2 separate regions of the Homo sapiens genome follow, and region 1 is linked to region 2. Evidence: fine-mapped expression QTL. Tissue or cell type: testis. Region 2 holds a variant in brackets; the other region holds the start of a gene. All regions are shown on one strand. Distances are from middle to middle.

Region 1 (8,267 bases), 38 kb after region 2:
TTAAAGGAAACAGACTATTAGTCTTAATTTTAAATTTTCTATATACTATCTACCTATGCCTAATTTAAATTTCGTAGATACTCTCAGCCTGATGCAGTGGCTCACATCTGTAATCCCAGCACTTTGGGAGTCCAAGACAGGTGGATCACTTGAGGTGAGGAATTCAAGACCAGCCTGGCCAACATGGTGAAACCCCGTCTCTGCTAAAAATACAAAAATTAGCTGGGCTTGGTAGTGCACACCTGTGATTCCAGCTACCTGGGAGGCTAAGGGATGAGAATCATTTGAATCCAAGAGGTGGAGTTGGATTGCACCACTGCACTCCAACCTGGGTGACAGAGCAAGACTCTGTCTCAAAAATTAAATTAATTAATTAATTACATAAAATAAATTTATCTAGATACTGTCATATATATAGCTTTCTCATATTATTTTAACTGGAATTCTATGAAGGAGAAAATGCATGTCTTTTCTACAAATGTCAACTTCCCATTGGAGAAAGTAGCTGTCCAGGATCGGTCTTCCAGGGAGGCAGAAGCAGCATCCCTTAAGATTTTCAGTGTTTATTTTCAGTAATTTCCATACCTGACCTCTCATCAAACACATCCATTTATCCATACATTCATTCAACAAACATTCCTGATCTTCTGTGTCACCAAATCTCTTCTAGAAGCTGAGGGTGCTACAATGATCAAACCACACTAAGATCTTAGTTCTCACGAAGTTTACATTAAATGGGAAAGGGGCAGACATTTGAAACAAAACAAGTAGAGTTTTGGATGATGACAAATATAATTTTTAAGCACTTTATGGCATAGAGTAAAATCAGTGCAGGCTACTTTGAATAGGTAGGAAAGTCTCTTCAGGTGGTTGACATTGATTGAAACTGAATGAAGAAAAGGAAGCAGCTTTTCCTAGCTCTAGGGAAAGCTGGGTCCAAAAAACGAATGAGTGAAAGGCCCTCTCTTAAGTCTTAGAAGAACAAGCTAAAGAAGTCAGAAGTATAGTGAGGGTAGACAAGTGAAGTTTTAGAAGTCAGCAGCACAGAATGAGCCAAATCCCACAGGTTGCGGATCGTATTCTAAGCATGATAGGAAGCTATTGGAGATCTTGAATTCAGATCCCACTGGCTCCTAGTGGCAGATGGATTGTAGGAGATGAGGGTGAAAACCAGGAATCCAGTTGAAAAGCCACTGGAGTGGCTCAGCCAAAGGGAATGGTGGCTGGAATGGAGGGTTGGACTAGGTTGGCAGCTGGAAGGGATGTTAGACCAAGAAATCTGTGCTATGGAAAGAGGGATAATCTGATGGATTCACAGAATATTTTGGACTTAGAGCTGGCAGAATGATAACGGAATGCCGGGGGTTGGGGGGGTGGGGGAGGCAGTGAATGATCACAGGAGAGAAACAAAAAGTGACCACCTAGGTTTCTGGCAAAAAACAGGCTGGGTGATGATGCCTTCTACTGGCAGGGCACAGTTTGAGGAAGCAGCAGGATTGGGATGGGACTGGAAAAAAGAAATCATGAGATCTCTATGCGATACCTCATCGGCGATGTTGACCAAGCAGTTGGATGTGTTGCAGGGAAAAGTGAGATATTCAACCTGAAATTCAAGTCCCACCCCTCATAAAGCTATTCTTAACAAAACCGGTCCAAAGTATCTTACCCTCCTTTGAAATCTTTATGACACTTCCTATCCAAACTTCATTGGGCAAGTGTATTTGGTTATCTTCTGCCTTGTGGTATGTTTTGCAGATTTTTTTCTTTTTTTTCTTTTTTTTTTTTTTTTTGCAGATGTTTCTAATTCAGAAGACGAGTTCTGAATTAGAACCCAAGAATTGCACTCCTATTTCTGTCCCTAAGAAGCTGGGTGATCAATGGGTGTCACTTATTCTTTAAAGGTGACCATGTCCTCACCTAAAATTAGAGTTAGGCAAGGATTAGGTAATTAATGTATTGCTTATGTTACTAAGTAATAGTTAAGTAATTTATTTCATAATTACTTCACTCATTGAAATCAAGCACTATGAACTTCTTTAAAGGTCCATAGCAGAGAGCACAAAGCGTGTACGCAGTAGGCACTCAATAAATGCAGACAGACTGACATGCACAGTCAAGCTAAACTCTTTAAATTCCTAAAAGAGTAATTGTTAATGTTTTGAGGAAGAGTCCAGCATCTGAAGGAATGAGGGGCACAGGTTGGGAAGTGCCCGACTTCCTGCCCCACCTGGGGACCCCGCCGCCTTTCAGTGGCTGCGCCCTCCTCCGCCCCAAACCCTCCCAGTCTGGGAGCCCAGGGTCCCACGTGGGGATGACGGGGCCGGGCTGGTGCGTACCTGGCGGGTAATACCGGAGCAGGAGGCTCTTGAGCTTCATTTTCTTGCTCTCTTATCCCCGGCCGATGGGCTTCGTAGCCTTGGAAACGGCTAAACAGCAGCGGGACGCGGGTGCGCATGCGCAGGTTGCACCGCGCGGTCCTGGGGCGCAGAGCTGGGAGGTCTGGCTCCGCGGGCGGTTGGTGGCGACCCGGGGCTCCGGCGCGCGGGGGGCGAGTGTTCTGGAGGTGTCTAGAGTGAAAGAGGTGAGGGCACCTCGTGTCCTCACTAAGGGCGACCTCAGAGGAGCTAGGCATGGCCGGGAACCGACGGCCTAGGCCACAGCCTGGGCTGCATGCACTTTTTTAGCACACTGCGTTTCCCAAAAGGAAGGCTGGGAGGAAAAGCCCATCGCTAATTACTACTCTAGGGCCCCAGCCCGTGCCCTGTCCTTGTCCTCCCAAAAGAAAAATGACCTCAACTTAATATTTTGCATTTCCTGACTCTGTGCCCTACATTGCTTTAAACGGTGTATGCACACATACTCATACAATCCTAACAAGGTGTGAGTTATGCACCACTTCTTAAGGATGAAGTAACTCAGAATTAGAGAAAGTGGAGAACTACCAGAGGTCGCAGCCTAAATGGATAGGCGGGAATGGAAGGCAGGTGCGTCGGAACCTACACCAGAAAGCCTACACCTGTGCTCTCAACCTGGGCTTAAAACTCTCCAGGCCTTCATGCGGCTTGTCCAATTTCTTGCCAGCATCGTTGTTTGCCTGCCACGTTTCCATGAGAAAGCCTGCGGAGAGACAGAGTCAGCCAACCAGCTTGTCAATTTCCTTTAAGGAATTTGGCCTCAACTGGAATTTCTCAAACTTGAGTCATTCCTGTGTTATCTGCGCAACTATGAGCCATATCTCTCCTTACCTCTTCCAGAGATCCATACCTAAGTTTTAAGTTCTTAAAATGTCTCTAGATTGACTCACTTATTTTACTTCACTTAGTAAAATGTAATCTTAAAAATTACCTTTACTTTTACAGTTACTGGCTGTTTACTGAAAATTATATGAAATTTAATTCCATCTGTGAAGTTTTTATTTCTAAATTTAAAATTATATGAAATTTTCAGTAAACAGCCAGTAACTGTAAAAGTAAAGGCAATTTTTTAAAGGCGTTGAATTGCTTGTTAAAGGCTGAGCCATCGGGAACTTGTGCGTCCATCTCAGGGAGACCTGGCCTTCAGAGATGACAGCATTCAGCCCCAGGAGGAGCCTGCAATTCGTCCTCGGTCTTCCCAGCTTGTGCCCCCCATGGGGATACAGGACAGTAAGGAGCCAAACAGAACCTGCTGCCTGAATGGGGGAACCTGCATGCTGGGGTCCTTTTGTGCCTGCCTCCCCTCCTTCTATGGATGGAACTGTGAGCACGGTGTACGCAAAGAGAATTGTGGGTCTGTGCCCCATGACACCCGGCTGCCCAAGAAGTGTTCCATGTGTAAATGCTGGCACGGGCAGCTCCGCTGCTTTCCTCAGGCATTTCTACCTGGCTGTGATGGCCTTGTGATGGATGAGCACCTCATGGCTCCCAGGACTCCAGAACTACCACCGTCTGCATGCACCACTTTTATATGCTAGCTGGCATCTGCCTTTCTATACAAAGTTACTATTAATTGACATTGACCTATTTCCAGAAATATGATTTTAGATATCATTCAAATTTCATGACCAGTAAAGGCTGCTGCTATAATGTCCTAACTGAAAGATGATCATTTGTTAGTTGCCTTAAAATAATGAATACATTTCCAAAATGGTCTCTAACATTTCCTTGTAGTACCAAATACTTCTTACCTCTTTGCCCTGCCCTCCCCACAAAAACTACTTCTTTTTTCAAAAGAAAGTCAGCCATATCTCCATTGTGCCTAAGTCATGTTTCTTGATACATGTAATTCTACCAAGGTCTTCTTAAAAGTTCTTTTAAACAATTGAATATTATCTTCAGATTATTAAAGACCAATCCTAATGTGGACCTTAGGATACAGTTTTGAGTAGAGTTGATAAAAATCAATTAAAATAGTCTCTTTAAATGGAAAGAAAGCCTCTTTAAGGGGAGGAAACAGAGGGCTGAAGGAATGGAAGTTCATCTGCATGTATGCAGGGAGACTGGGTAGGAAAGAGGAAGCAAATGGGAGAGAGAGGTTGGAAAACATAAAATGGGTTACTTGATGGTGATTAGGTGGGTGTAGAGAAGAAAGTTAAAAGGCTAAATGGAAGGGTAAGTTTCCGTCATCTATAGAAAGCTATATGAGACAAGGACTCCAATTTTTTTCCCAAAGGTGTTGTAAAAAGAATGAAGTCTCCTTATAAAAAAAAAATTATACCTCAATGTCCCCAACAAGACTGCTTAATAAATTATGTTTCCTCCAAGCTATGCAATTCTTTTAACTGTTGTAGAAGAGAAAATGTTCACAATATATTTAGTTGTAAACCAAATGATAAAACTACATATTGTAAAGCCAACTTTTAAAATACATTGTATATATGCGTATGCACAGTAAAAATGGAAAATATATTGACCTAAAGGCATTGAATTACTATATACTACTATATATTACTATATTACTATATACTAATTACTATATACTGCCAAAGACTCTGAACCCAAAACCATCCCTTTCTTTGTAAACAAAGGAAGGAAGAAAGGAAAGAAAGAGGGAGGGAGGGAGGGAGGAAGGGAAGGAAGGAAATTAGCAACTGTTTGAGATTGTTAAGACAGGCTACAAGACGGAATAGCACTCAACTGAGCCTTCCTACTTGATGTGTTCAGAAGATTGAAAAGATTGTTGAGATGGCAAAGCCTTTGCTACTAAGTGACACAATTTAACCCAATATAAATGTGCAAAAAAAAAATCATCTTTTTCTCACCAGTAGTAAGCATCCCATACTTGGAAAACAGGGAACCGTATGAAATCCAAGCTCTCTCCCAGCTCAAACTTTCTCCTAGCCACTAAGACACTCTGGAAGGACTTATGGAGGGAGGGGCAAAGAGTTTGCTCTATAGAAATGAGAAAGTCTTTGGTAGATTTTGGTCACCTATGTTATTGCTTGTGCTCATGCCATTTAAAATGTGATCTTTGGGTGGGGCACCCATTTAAAACGTGATCTTTGGGTGGGGCACGGTGGCTCTTACCTATAATCCCAACACTTTGGGAGGCCAAGTTAGGAGGATTGCTTGAACCCAGGAGTTCAAGACCAGCCTAGGCAACAAGGCAAGATCCGGTCTCTACAAAAAAATTAATTAGCTGGGTGTGGTACATGCCCCTATTGTCCCAGCTACTCAGGAGGCTGAGGTGAAAGGATCACTTGAGTCAGGGAGGACATCACCAATAGTGGGACAAACTGACATATATTACCTGGTATTACGATGCACTGAAGAGAACACAGCAAAGCCGGGTGCAGTGGCTCATGCCTGTAATCCCAGCACTTTGGGAGGCCAAGGTGGGCAGATCATAAGGTCAGGAGATCGAGACCATCCTGGCCAACATGGTGAAACCGCATCTCTACTAAAAATACAAAAATTAGCTGGGCGTGGTGGAACGTGCCTGTAATCTCAGCTACTCTGGAGGCTGAGGCAGGAGAATTGCTTGTACCAGGGAGTCGGAGGTTGCAGTGGGCCGAGATCGTGCCACTGCACTGCAGCCTGGCAACAGAGCAAGACTCTGTTAAAAAAAAAAACAAAAAACAATAAACAAAAAAAAACAGCAATTCTCTGGAATTCCTGCCCAAAATGAATTACTTGACTCAAATCATAAGGAAACATCGGAGCAAACCAAACTGAGGAAATTGTATAAAATAACTGTTGACAGTCAAGGAAAGAAAACTCTAAAGAAATACTTGAGATTAAATAAATCTAAAAAGGACAACTAAATGCACTGAGTGATGATAGATCCTGAACCAGAATAATAATTACTTACAAAGGGCATCGTTGAGACAATGGATGAACTCTGTATATAGGGATTGTGGTTTAGATAATAGTATTTTATCAGTGTTAAGTTTCTTGACTTTGATCATTGTACTGGTTATGTAAGAGAATGTCCTTGTTCTTAGGAAAAGTATACTGATTTATTTCAAAATAAAAGGGCATGCTGGCACCCTGATCTCAGACTTCCAGCCTCCAGAACTGTGAGGAAGAAGTTTCTATTGTTTGTGAGCCACCCAGTCAACGGTACTTGTTATGGAAGCCTGAACTAAGACATTCCCACCAGGACCTGCCTTGAACAACCAGAAACTAAATAATGAGTAGCAGTAATTTTAATCTCCTAAACCAATCCAGGCTAATACAGTGAAGTCACTCTAGGCTTCAGTTCTCCAAGCATGGTTCCCGGACCAGCAGGGTCAGTATCACTTAGGAATTCATCAGCAATGTACATTTTCGCCTCCCCCGAGTCCCGACCTACTGAATCAGAAACACTGATGGTGAAGTCCAACAACCCATGTTTAAATGTGCTTTCCTGGTGATTCTAGTGAATGATGAAGCTTGAGAGCCACTGTGCTAGCTTAATAGGTTACACTGGCTTGGACAGAACGAAGTGAGTGAAATTGGGCTTCATCTCCAATGATCAGGTCTTTCTGTGTATTCCAGGCAGTCTTCCCTGATTGTCAGGAACAGTAAATTGATTGTTCAACCACATCCTCGAATGTAAATGAGAACCAGAAACAACACGGGAAGAAGCTGGAATTTTCTACATAATTGGGTTTCAGATGCTCCAATGCACTGAGAGAGGACAGTGGACATCAGGCTGAGGGAAGAATCAGAAGGTACCTGGGAGGATGGGAGTTGGGGAGGGAGGTAGTCTCTAAAATCAAAATATGTATGGTGGCTCTGGTGGCTCACGCCTGTAATCACAGTGCTTTGGGAGGCCAAGGCAGGAAGACTGCCTGAGCTCAGGAGTTTGAGACCAGCCTGGGCAACAGGGAAAAACCCCATCTCTACAAAATGTACAAAAATTAGCCCAGTGTGGTGGCACTCACCTGTAGTCCAAGCCACTCAGGAGGCTGAGGTGGGAGGATGGCTTGAGCCTAGGAGGCGGTGGTTCAGTGAGCTGAGATCACACCACTGCACTCCAGCCTGGGTGACAGAGCCAGAACCTGTCTCAAAATATATATATATATATATGGATGTAGTATATCTATACATATATATATTTATATTTATAGAGAGAGAGAGAGAAAGAGGAGGAGGAGGAGAAGGAAGAAGGAGTCAGTCCGGGGGATCCAGATTCTGTATTTTTGAGGCTGGGCAAGGTAAGGGAGGAGTAGGGCTTCCGGCTGCGGCTGGGCTTGGTGGATTCCATTTGGCTCAGCTTCTCCTGGAGAAAACCAACTTCAGTGAGATGACTGCATCACTGGTGTTGGAGCCTCACTGAGAGCAGCAGATAAAAAGAGAGATGCAATCCTCTCCTAGAAAGAGAAGGCACAGATGCTCAGAGCCAGGCAGGAGCAGTCTGCTGTGCACAGGGTTTAAAGGTGACCTCATCACAGCAGGCCCCAGAGCGGAGGAACGGCATCAGGGTGGGGGCATGTGGACCAGACATCGCCATTTACCCTCTTCCTCTGCCTGCCTCCATCCCCACAGCAGGACTCAAAAGCATCTGATCTTACCTGGGACTTGAAAACTAACAGGGCCAGGGCCACTAATTGTATCATTCAATAAATGTGTATAAAGGACCTGCTAGTACCAGGCATGCTGCTGTTATAGATCTAATTCTGAAAAATATTGCAAGGGAGTTATTCACAGAAAGAATCAGACTTCGGGTGAGTTTGAAATGATTGTAGGTTGCCAGGTGAGGTGGCTCACGCCTGTGATCCCATCACTTTGGGAGGCCGAGGCGGTGGACCACCTGAGGTCAGGAGTTTGAGACCAGCCTGACCAACGTGGTGGAACCCTGTCTCT
Region 2 (11,839 bases):
AGAGAGATACAGATATATGACTCTCTCTCTCAATAGATTAGATAGATGATGATGATGATGATGATGAAGATAGATAGACAGACAGACAGACAGACAGACAGACAGACAGACAGATAGATAGATATGATGACTGTCTTCTGGCAGAAGGTGTAGACATGTTGTAATGTCATACATGATGATCAGGGAGATGACAGAGACACTGTAGCATCTCAGTGGCCATAAAGAGCATGACATATGCATAGTACAGGGATATATGTGGTGTACAAGGATTCTACAAAGATTGATTTTAGAACCATACACAGTGCCAAGGAGATGACACATGTATAGTATCACATGGTTATCAGTGGGATGATGTGCATGTAGAGTACCATCACATATGGGAATTTTAAAATGGCACATAGGATAGCATTATACATGAATATCAAGGAGACGACATGCATGAATGCAGCACTGTGGGTTTTCCTCATGGAAATAACCTATATTATGGCATCATAAATGTCACAAAGGAGCTGGTCCATATAAATATCAGGCATCATATGTGGTTATCAAGGAGAAAAGCATTATCTGTGATTTTCAACATGATGAAACACACAGTATAATGTCACATGTGGTTATCAAGGTGATGACTCAGAAATAGGGAGATATAACACATGGTTATAAAGGCGGTAACTTAGTATATCATCTATAGTTATTAAGGAAATGAAGTACACATAATATAACATCACATGTCGATATGAAGGATATTATGTAGTCATGTTTTAACACAATATGTGGTGATATCAAGACCCAAACAAAGGATAGTGTCACAAATCATCATCAAGAAGATGATCTTCTCATGCGAGGTTCTGAAAGATGAATCCTAAAATTGCATGTCACTTTGTTATCTAGGAGATGATTCAGATATAGTACAGACTCATACATGATTGCGATTGTAAAGGAGATGACAGAGAAATAGTTTAGCAATATACATGCTTGCCAAATGTTCAAGCTCCTTTGTAACATTTATGATGCTATAAGCAGTGATAATATTGTACAACATATAGCTGTCAAGGATGGGGCATCAAACATGACCATCAGTGATAGGACCCAAAATGTGGCATCATATATGGTTGCCAAGGAAATTTGGAGTGATAGTGTAGCATACATAGTTGTCTAAGACATACAGATGCAAACGTATGAGAGCACAATCCACAATTATCATGTTTATCATTGCAGACACATGGCAGCTTTTTATATGATCATCAAGGAGATAACCCAGAATATGCCATCCTACATGATTAACAGGTAGGGGATGACAGCAGTATAGCTTATGTATGGTTTTCAACAAGGTGACACAGACATAGGGAAACATTTTTGTTTTCAAGGAAATGAAGAATACAAATGAAGCAGAATAGGCGGTCATCACTGAGATGACAAACACAAAGTGTAGCAATGTCCAGACCTCCAGTGATATGAAACAGACATACTAGACAGTGCAGCATTATATATGATCATCAAGAAGATAAGGAACACAGCATGTAGCATACCATATTGTTGACAGCAGATGACACAGGCATAGTTTAGCATCACGTCCAGTGATCAAAGAGATGAACACACCGGATAACATCAAACATGATTACCAAGAACGTGACATAACTCGGGCGGCTGAGGCAGGAGAATCGCTTGAACCTGGGAGGCGCAGGTTGCAGTGAGCCAAGATCGTGCCACTGCACTCCAGCCTGGGCGACAGAGCGAGACTCCATCTCAAAGAAAAAAAGAAAAAGAGAAAGAAGGTGACATAGATATAGCATAACATCATACATGTTGACCATGGAGATGAGGCAGAATGTAACATTATACTTGGTTCCAGAAAAGACAATGTACACACATAAGTCAGTATAGTATGGTATGGTATGGCATAGAAGAGTAGAGCATAGCGTAGCACAGTATAGACACACAGACACAGCACAGAGCCAAATATTGTTGTCATGAAAGGATCTATACATAGTGAAGCAGGATATATGGTCATGAGAAAGATGAATCAGATAGTATAGGGGCATAAGTGTCAGAGAGATGGCACATATGTAATGTAGCTGCCATTTGTGGTCATCAGGGAGATGATGTAGACATAGTGTAATCTCATAAAGGTCCTAAAGAGAGGTAAGAGATAAGATAGCATCACATGTGGATATCAGGGATATAACACATACGTTATACAGCATCATATGTGGTAGTCAGAAAGATGATACAGAAAGTACATGTGGTTATCAAGGCAATGACACAGACATAGTGGAGAAATTATAAGTTGTTGCCAAGGAGAGGATGAAAACATGTTCTTACAAATAAAATGATCATCAGGGAGACAAAGTAAATATATTATAGCATCATCCTTAAATAACTAGGCCATGTCACCCATAAGGTATAGCACAGCCCTTTGTATAGGGCATGATGAAGTTACAGTGTAATATAAGTGGTTTCAAGAAGATGATAAAAACATAAAATAATATGCAGTTGTCAGGCAGAAGCAGCAAACACACAGTATGTCATATGTGCTATTATATGCTGAATTGTGTCCTTTTAAAATTCATATGTTGAAGTCCTAATTCACAATATCTCAGAATGTAATATATATATAATATATATAATCATGTATAATTTTATATATACACATGTGTATATATACACATGTATATATGTATATATGCTTATACATACACGTGTATATATGTATATATACACGTGTATATGTGTATATACACGTGTATATATGTATATATGTATATATACACATATGTATGTATATATACACATATATATGTATGTGTATACATATATATATAACTATACATGATTCTTAAATATATGCAAGCATAGTATAGTTTCATCCATTGCCAAAAACATGATGAGACATAGTATAGCTTCATATACAATTGTCAAGGATATGGCTCAAAAAATAGTATAAGCTTACTTAGGTTGTCAGAGAGATAATGCAGATATAGGGCGGTGTTATATGTTATCAGGGAGATGACACATAGCATAGTTTCATACAAGACATCAGGGTCTCATGGATGATTGGATGCAGAAAAAAAGTATCTGGGTGATGACACATAATTTTGTGTCATATGAAGATACCATGGATTCGACACAGATATGTTGTAATGTCACAGGTGCTTATCATGAAAATGAAGCAGACATACTGCAGCATCATAAATAGTAGTCAGGGAAATGATGCAAAAATATTGTATCATCATACCCTGTTTTCCAAATGGCATGGACATAGTGTAGTATCATATTTGTAGGTCCTGGAGATTAATTGTAGCCTAGTGTAATAAATGGTTATTATGAATATGATGCCGAAATAGTATAAAGTAACATATAGCATCTTATGGGGTTGTTAAAGGGGTGATATAGTAATAATATAACATCACACATCATTGTCCAATACATTTCAAATAATGTAACACCACATATGGCTGTCTAGAATATGAGGGGTGTGTGTGTGTGTGTGTGTGTGTGTGTGTTCATCCACAAATATATTCATCAAGAAGATGGGGTCTCACTCTGTCACTCAGACTGGATTATAGTGGCATAATCATAGTTCGCTGTAACCTTGAACTCCTCCTGGGCTCAGGTTATTTTCCTCAGCTTACTGAGTAGTTAGGTCTACAGGTGCATGCCACCACACCTGACTAATTTTTGTTTTAATTAGCTAATTTTTGTTTAATTTTGTAGAGATGGGGTCTCACTATGTTGCCCAGGCTCATCTCAAACTCCTGGCCTCAAGCGATCCTCCAATCTTGGCCTCCCGAAGTGTTGAAATAACAGGCATGAGCCACCACACCTGGCCATGATGCATATATTATATAGCATCATACATGATCATCAAGGAAATTGTCATAGTACAATATCATATATGACTATCAAAGAATAAGGTACGCATAACACATGTTTTAGGATACCTCAGAAACATCACGATGTTGTATTTGGTTGTCAGGGAGATGATGCAGATGTAGTATAATGTCATATGTGGGTAACAGGATATACACACACAGTGCGGCATTGTGATGGTTAATTTTATGTGTCAACTTGACTGTGTTAAGGGATACCCACGTGGCTGGTAAAACATTGTTTCTGGGTGTGTCTGTGAGGATGTTAGACTGAGTAAATAAGAGCCACCCTCACCAATGTGGGCAGGCATCATCCAATCCATTGAGGACCCAGATACAACAAAAGGTGGAGGAAGGATGAAATTCTCTCTTCTGGAGCTGGGACATCCATCTTCTCTGGCCCTCGGTCATCGAGCTTCTGGTTCTCAGATCCCCAGACTCCAAGACTGACACCAGTGCCCTCCTCAGTTCTCTCAAGTTTTTGGCCTCAGACTAAGAGTTACACCATTGGTCCCCCCAAGTTTTTAGGTTTTCAGACTTACACTGAATTATACCACTGACTTTCCTGATTCTCCAGCTTGCAGATGGCATATGGCAAGACTTCTCAGCCTTCATATATAAATATGTGTGTGTGTATACTTATATAATATTGGTTATATACTATATATATGTGTGTGTGTATTTATATACTATTGGTTATATACTATATATACTATAAACAGAATTATATACATAGTATATATAGTGTAATACATATAAATATATAATATATAAAAATGTACAAATATATAATATAAAAAATACATAAAATTATATATAGTATAAAACAGAACCAATAGGAGACAGACAGACAGACAGATAGATAGATAGATAGATAGATAGATAGATAGATAGATAATATCACCACCTTTCTAAAGGTGGTGATGTGATATAGTGGACCCTGCAGACATGTTGGCCAGGGCAATGAGGTATAAATACTATAGCATCATACATGGATTTCTAAGAAATACTAAGATATGGAATAGTATCATATATGGTTATAAATAATTGGATAAAGATACAGTATAGTATCATACATTATTATAAAGAGGATAAAAACAGTGTAAATTAAACATAGTCAGATACATGACATAGATACAATATAGCATCATATGTGGTCATCAGATAGATAACAGACTTGGTGTAGCTTCACACGTGGTCATCAGGTAGATGGTATCGATGTAGTTTAGCATCATCTGTATCTTCAGGAAGATGACACATAGTTCATACTTCAAATTCTATGCCTCACAGAATAGCATCACGCATGGTATGTGATGTCGATATGACATAGACTTAGTATAGCATCACATATGCTTGCCAAGGAGACATAGGATGATGGAGACATAGTATAGTACCATGTGGTTATCAAGGATATGGTGTAGACATAGTTTAGTGTAAAATAGGAAATTGTCAGGGAGATAATGTAGAAATTGTATAGTGTTAACACATGTTTTTCAGGAATATGCTGCAGACATAGAGTAGCATCATAAATACTTGCCAGGGAAATAGTGCAGACACAATGAATCATCACATATGTTTGTCAAAGAGATGACACATAATATAACATCATATATGGTTGTCATGGGAATGACTTGTTGTTCAGTATCATAAAATGTTATCCAGGACATGATGCATGCATAGTACACCAACACAGATGGTC[G/A]TCACTGAGATAATAAAAACATCATATAGCATTGCATGTGGCTTCAACGAGATGACGTGGACAGAGTGTTAGTATCATACATATTTGTCAGCAAGATGATCATGGTTTTGCATCATATATGATTATCAAGGATATGATGCAGATATGGCCCAGCATCAAATGTGGTTTTAAAGGAGTAGATGAAAACACAGTATAGCATAATATGCAACTTTCAACAAGATGATGCAGATACAGTGTAGAAATAAACATGATCCTTAGGCGATAAGACAGACACAATATCATGTCACATGTGAGCAACAGGGAGATGACAGATATAGTGTAGTGTCACATGTGACTGTCACAGGATTGAAGCACACCTAGGATAGCACTATATATGGTTATCAATAAGATGACACATAGTGTAGAATCACAGTGGTAATCAAAGAGACAATGTATAGCATAGCATCATGTATGCTTATCACAAAGATGCAGTAGACATAGCGGAACAGCACATGTGGTTATAGTAAAGGAGATTATAGCACCATTGATGGTAATTAAGTTGACAAGGCCAACATAGGGTAACATCATATGTAATCATCAGGGAAGCTGGGCACGGTGGCTCACGCCTGTAATCCCAGCATTTTGGGAGGCCAAGGCAGGTGGATCATCTGAGGTCAGGAGTTCGAGACCAGCCTGGCCAACATGGAGAAACCCCGTCTCTACTAAAAATACAAAAATTAGCCAGGCATGGTGGTGCATGCCTGTATTCCCAGCTACTCGGGAGGCTGAGGCAGGAAAATTACTTGAGCCTGGGAGGCGGAGGTTGCGTTGAGCCGAGATCGCACCACTGCACTGCAGCCTGGGCAACAGAGTGAGACTCCATCTCAAAATAATAATAATAATAAAAATCAGGGAGATGACCCAGAATATAGCATCATATACAGATATTAAGAAGATGACAAAGACCTCATATACCTCGTTATGTAGGAGGTGACACAGACATTGCATAACATTACATGTGGTTATCAGGTATATGATATAGACACACTATTGTGCCATACATGGTCACGATAGAGATGAGACATGGTTTTTTATCATAGCTGGTCATCAAAGAAATGACCCATAGTGTAGAATTATGCATGGTTATCAAGCAAAGCATAAATCTCTCCAAAAATTAAAAGAATGAACAGATCACCTACCATCAGCTGAAGCAGTTGCAATAAGCTTTCCAGTGTAATCAAAGCAGCTGTCTAGTATTTCATCATCATGGCCTGTTAAGGTTGCCACACATTTTCCATTTGTAGCATCCCACAGCTACAATTAAAAGAACAAAAAACAAAAAAAAAAAGACTATGACTTTCTGTCTGAAGTGTGAAGATGGCCAGTGGTCTTCATGACATGCTTATGGCTGGTTAAATAACTGTGCAAAAATCACTTGTGTAATTCATGCATGTTCAGTTAGATTTACTTTGATTCATGACCAGAGACCACAGCCAACCATCAAGCAAGGCACACTCTAGTCACAGAGAAAACCAAAGTCAGACATTTAGAATCTGCCACTACATTAAAGAAAGAAAAAATATCTCAACGTGTATGCTTTACTGGTTGGTGAAGAGTTGTGCTCTTTTTATAGGAAGGACATCAAATGATTAGGAGCTTGATATAAAACTACAATGTCAGAAAATGGAAAGTACATTATAAGATTATATTTGTTACATAAACAAATGATAATTCCATAGTATAATCTCTTAGTAACCATTTTTTAAGTATAGAAACTTAGGGACAAGGAAACACTGTGTTTGAGGCTCCTTGAGGGTCACTCTACTAATTGAAGTTCTATAAATGAACAGTGGGATATTAAATAAAAATAAAATGCCTTCTCAAATAAGATATTTAATATACTTGAAGCAATTCAAATTGCTTTACTACATCACAATTCCTTCAAATTTGGAAAATCCAAAACTAGAAATTTTAAAAATTACCAACTATTTTTTGTAAATTAATATCTTAATTTTATATCATCTTTGAAATCTGTTAATGTTACAATGGATATCTGACACAGTAAAGAGTATAGACACAATATAAAGCAAAGATATTTATTTATTTTGCTCACCTTGCAGGTTTTGTCCATAGAGCCAGTTAATATTAGAGAGCAATCCCAATTGAATGAGGCACTGCTAATCTCAGCACAATGACCAATTAAGATATTTACCTTCCTACAACACAAAAATAATTAAAACTAGTGAAAGATATCTTACTTCAGTATATGCACATGAATAATGAGGCCAAGCCCATCTGTGTAAGCTAATCTAAAATCTGGTTTTTACAAAATAATATATTTGATGACAAATATGGCTCTACTATTGCTCAAAAAGAAGCTACCAATAATTTCATTTCAGCCGGGCACGGTGGCTCACGCTTGTAACCCCAGCACTCTGTGAGGCCGAGGCAGGTGGATCCACGAGATCAGGAGATAGAGACCATCCTGGCTAACACAGTGAAGCCCCGTCTCTACTAAAAATACAAAAAATTAGCCAGGCGTGGTGGTGGGCGCCTGTAGTCCCTGCTAATCGGGAGGCTGAAGCAGGAGAATGGCGTGAACCCAGGAAGCGGAGCTTGCAGTGAGCCGAGATCACGCCACTGCACTCCAGCCTGGGCAACAGAGCGAGACTCCGTCTCAAAAACTAACTAACTAAATAAATAATTTCATTTCAACAAAAATGTACTTAGATTTTAAACTATCAAAATAATGCTACTTAAGGCAACATTTCAAAAAGACATGGGTAACAAATAGTAAAGGCCGTAAGAAGTAGTCTTACACCGGGTGAGTGCACCCCTGGTTGTTCAGAAACTACACATCAAGTAACTGAAAGGTCCTTCTTCCTCTATCATTTCTTGTTGCATACATCTTGGTTGGCACCCCTGATAATTAGCCCCTCTATTAAATCACAGACAAATCCAAGAGTAGAGTTTTCCAACACAAATATGCTAATTTAGTTAACTTCCTAGCAACTAGGACCAAAAATCATTAGGAAGGAAATTGAAGTTCTTGGACTAAATTAATTTGGGAAATTAACTAAGAGTTTTTATTTATACATGATATTCCTGCCTAACATAATGACAAGCCATTGAAATCTGATTATCCATGAAATAAATAATAGCTATATAACCAGACTATTGCTAACATTCTCCTTTTATGTTGCTGTTTGTCATTATTTGCTCAGAATTCAAAGAATGCACATATTTTGTGAATCAGAAATATCATTAAAGAATGAATTAATTTACATTTTCAATATGTCCTATTTTTATGGAATCCAAAGCAGAGTTAATAGATAGTAGCTTAAACTAAAAAATAACAGAGGGTTTTCTGAACCCCCTGATCCAGGTTAAAACAATTCTTAAGAACTAAGAATTACCTTCCAGTATCAGCGTCCCACACTACAACGGTATGATCAAAAGACCCCGTGATGATTCTGTCTCCTGAGGTGTTAAATGACAAGGAGATGATTTCGGCAGAATGTCCCTAGAAAAAGAGCAGATACTGTCAAGTATACCTGCAGATAAAACAATTTCTGCAAGCGTACAATATCATAGTCTAAAAGGAAATGCTGGAGAAGGCCGAGCTCTAGGAACGGAGGTCAGCGGTTGGCTGGGGTGAGGATGGGGAGTGTCTGCACGTGGGCACAGGGTTCTTTTTGGGGTGATGGAAAGGTTTGAAAACTAGGTTTTGGTAATGGCTGCACAATACTGTGAGTTTACTAAAAATTAGTGACTTACACACAGCTAGTTCATTTAACTTAATAATATTGATTAAAAACAAAAGAAAGAGGTTGTATTTGGGGAAACTAGAGGACGTCCTTTACACTGCCTTGGAAACACTACAGAGCAGGGGATGCCATGGGCTAATAACACATGGTATGCAAAAGTAAACAGTGTATGAAATAAAACTAATTACTTTTAAAAAGGAAATTATTAAGATAACTTGACATGAAATCGATTGATAAATTCCTGCCTTTGGCCTGACTTTCAGCTGGTTACTGTCTAGTGTTAGTGAATCAAACTGTAAGATAATGGGAAGAAACCACTCTCCACAGCAGATTCTGGAACTCTGATAAGGGGATCCTGGTTGGAGTACATATATCCCTTGATTCCTTCATTATTTTAGTAAATTAACATAAGTATACTTTTAAATAATACAAAGAATTAGAAAAGTTGAATTATAACTTGATTTTTCTGATTGATTTCAAAGGACAAAATGAAATGTAGTTGAATATTCGAATTCTAAGTACGCAAAACAAATTCACTCTCTGGCGCAGACAGGTGTGCCAAGCAGGACCCCTCCCATTGAGTGCTCTTAGGCACGTCTGTAAAAGGAGTCATTTTAGTTGAAAGTGTGGCATTAATGGGGACCTTTCCCTGCACATTTGCCTGAAGGAAGAGATAGTAATGATTTAAAAAAAAAACGAAAAAAGAACTGAGAACAGAAAGAGTATACTTACACTAATAATGCTAGATACTCAGATTTAAGAAAGAAAAGCCATTACTGTTATTTTAAAATGGTGATTTTTTTTCTTTTGCAGTCCATGTTTTAACTTGCTTAGAAAAAGCTTTCTGAGGAAACAAATCATGTTTTTAAAAATGTACTTATAATTTTGAAAGGACAAGGAAACTGAATTTCCCATCTGGCTGTTCCTGCTGATTACAACATAGGGTCACTCTAGTTTTGTTGCAGTGACTTGGGCTGGGGTGGGAGGAAGGGGAGGGTGGGAGGAAGGGGAGGGTGGGAGGAAGGGGAGGGTGGGAGGAAGGGGAGAGTGACAGATGGCGGGGAGGTGCTGGGCACATGGTGGTGACACACAAGAGCATGCCCCACAGCACTCACTCTGTGGGCAGAGCCCTTTGGCCTTTTCCCCTCTGGTCACTTGCCCCTCTGTCATTTCAGACTTTTGTGATACAGGATGGCTGAAAGACCAGCGGGCAGAGGAGAGTGTGCTCACAGTCATTGCTCTAAGGATTCTCTTGTCATGGTTCTCCAGTTCTGCCTCTTCCAAAAGTGCCAGCCTCCACCTGCTTTCCTTTTAGCCAGAGAGATGGTGATGGGTTCTAAGATATAGTTTATGTGTTTTGCAGACTAAAGTTAGTCAAAATAAAAAGCTCCTTGGACTTCCCCAGCACCTCCACCCAAGTCTTTTGGAATAGCCAGGAAACCAGTAGGGACACTCTTTCACCACTAAAATTTGAAAACCAGCAACTCAACAACCTCCAACTTAGAGCTCATTTTGTAACAAAAACACAAATAAGAATGAACACAAATAACAGGCTTATTAACATTATTGACATACTCTTAAGGTGTAAACTTCCTCGCCATTCTGAATGTCCCACAATTTGGCTGTTGTGTCCATACTTCCAGTCGCCACCAATGTGCTTTGAGGGTTAAATGATAAACACACCTAAATTACATAAAATGGGAGAAATTTTAGGAAGACAGAGTTTCAAAGTGTTAATTATACACAGAAAATCTTCCAGATGCAATTACCTTACCAGATTCCATCTAATTCTTTGTACAAAACCCCACGTATGTGTGACCTGCTACCCCCAGGTTGAGTCCTTCAGAGTCCTCCTCTTGAAAAGAGGCTGCTTGTTCTCCCACAGCACCCAGCTAAGGCTTGGAGGGGCACTAGCTCCCTTTGCCACTTCCAGACCACAGAAGAACAAGAACAAAAGTGAAGCCCACCTCCTTTAAGATCCGTGCTATATGGCTCTCCTTCTCCTTGCTGCTGTCACCACAGTCCTTCCAATCACAGCCCCTCACTCATCAAGAGACTACTGGCTTGTAGTCTCAATGCCAAGTCTTAGGTGGCCTTCACGTGGGCAATCCATCCAGTTCCCCCAGACCCATGCCCCGGACAACTGTTCAGTAGTCTCTCCCATGGCCACACCATGGACCTTAGTATTATCTTCTCTAGAAGATTCACCACCAATTCACCAATCCAGGGTCAAAATTTCCCTTCCCACTCCCCTCCCCCAGAAGATCTTTCATCTCATTGAGACATCTGCCTTTTCTCCTGGTCCATCCTCCCCATTCAACTGACACCCCGGAAGCATCACTCCTCCCAGTATCCTCGACACTGTTAGCCCCTATCTATCTGATGCACCTTCCGTACCAACTGCTAACATTAACTTTTATCAGGCAAGGATTTTATCCAACCACCTGCTTCCCTGCCTCATCACCCAGCCAAGGTAGCTTAAGAGAACAGCACAGAAAGTTACTAGTATTGCTCTTTCATGCCTCTGT

The links. PIP is the estimated chance that this variant, and not a neighbour inherited with it, causes the effect.
Region 1: DAW1 starts here. The variant in region 2 is fine-mapped to the expression of DAW1 in testis (GTEx, PIP above 0.99).

The regions. Positions count from the first base shown.
Region 1 is chr2:227,865,799-227,874,065 of GRCh38, reverse strand. DAW1 (dynein assembly factor with WD repeats 1) reads right to left here and starts at 2,435. Exons shown (of 13, transcript NM_178821.3): 1 at 2,337-2,435. The coding sequence starts at 2,376. It also overlaps the pseudogene CRIPTOP2.
Region 2 is chr2:227,902,157-227,913,995 of GRCh38, reverse strand. It overlaps DAW1 (dynein assembly factor with WD repeats 1), which reads right to left. Exons shown (of 13, transcript NM_178821.3): 7 at 10,887-10,994; 8 at 8,961-9,067; 9 at 7,658-7,760; 10 at 6,744-6,858. Among named protein-coding and RNA genes, the nearest start is that of DAW1, 36 kb to the right of the region's middle. The variant G/A (reference allele first, on the strand shown) is at 5,566.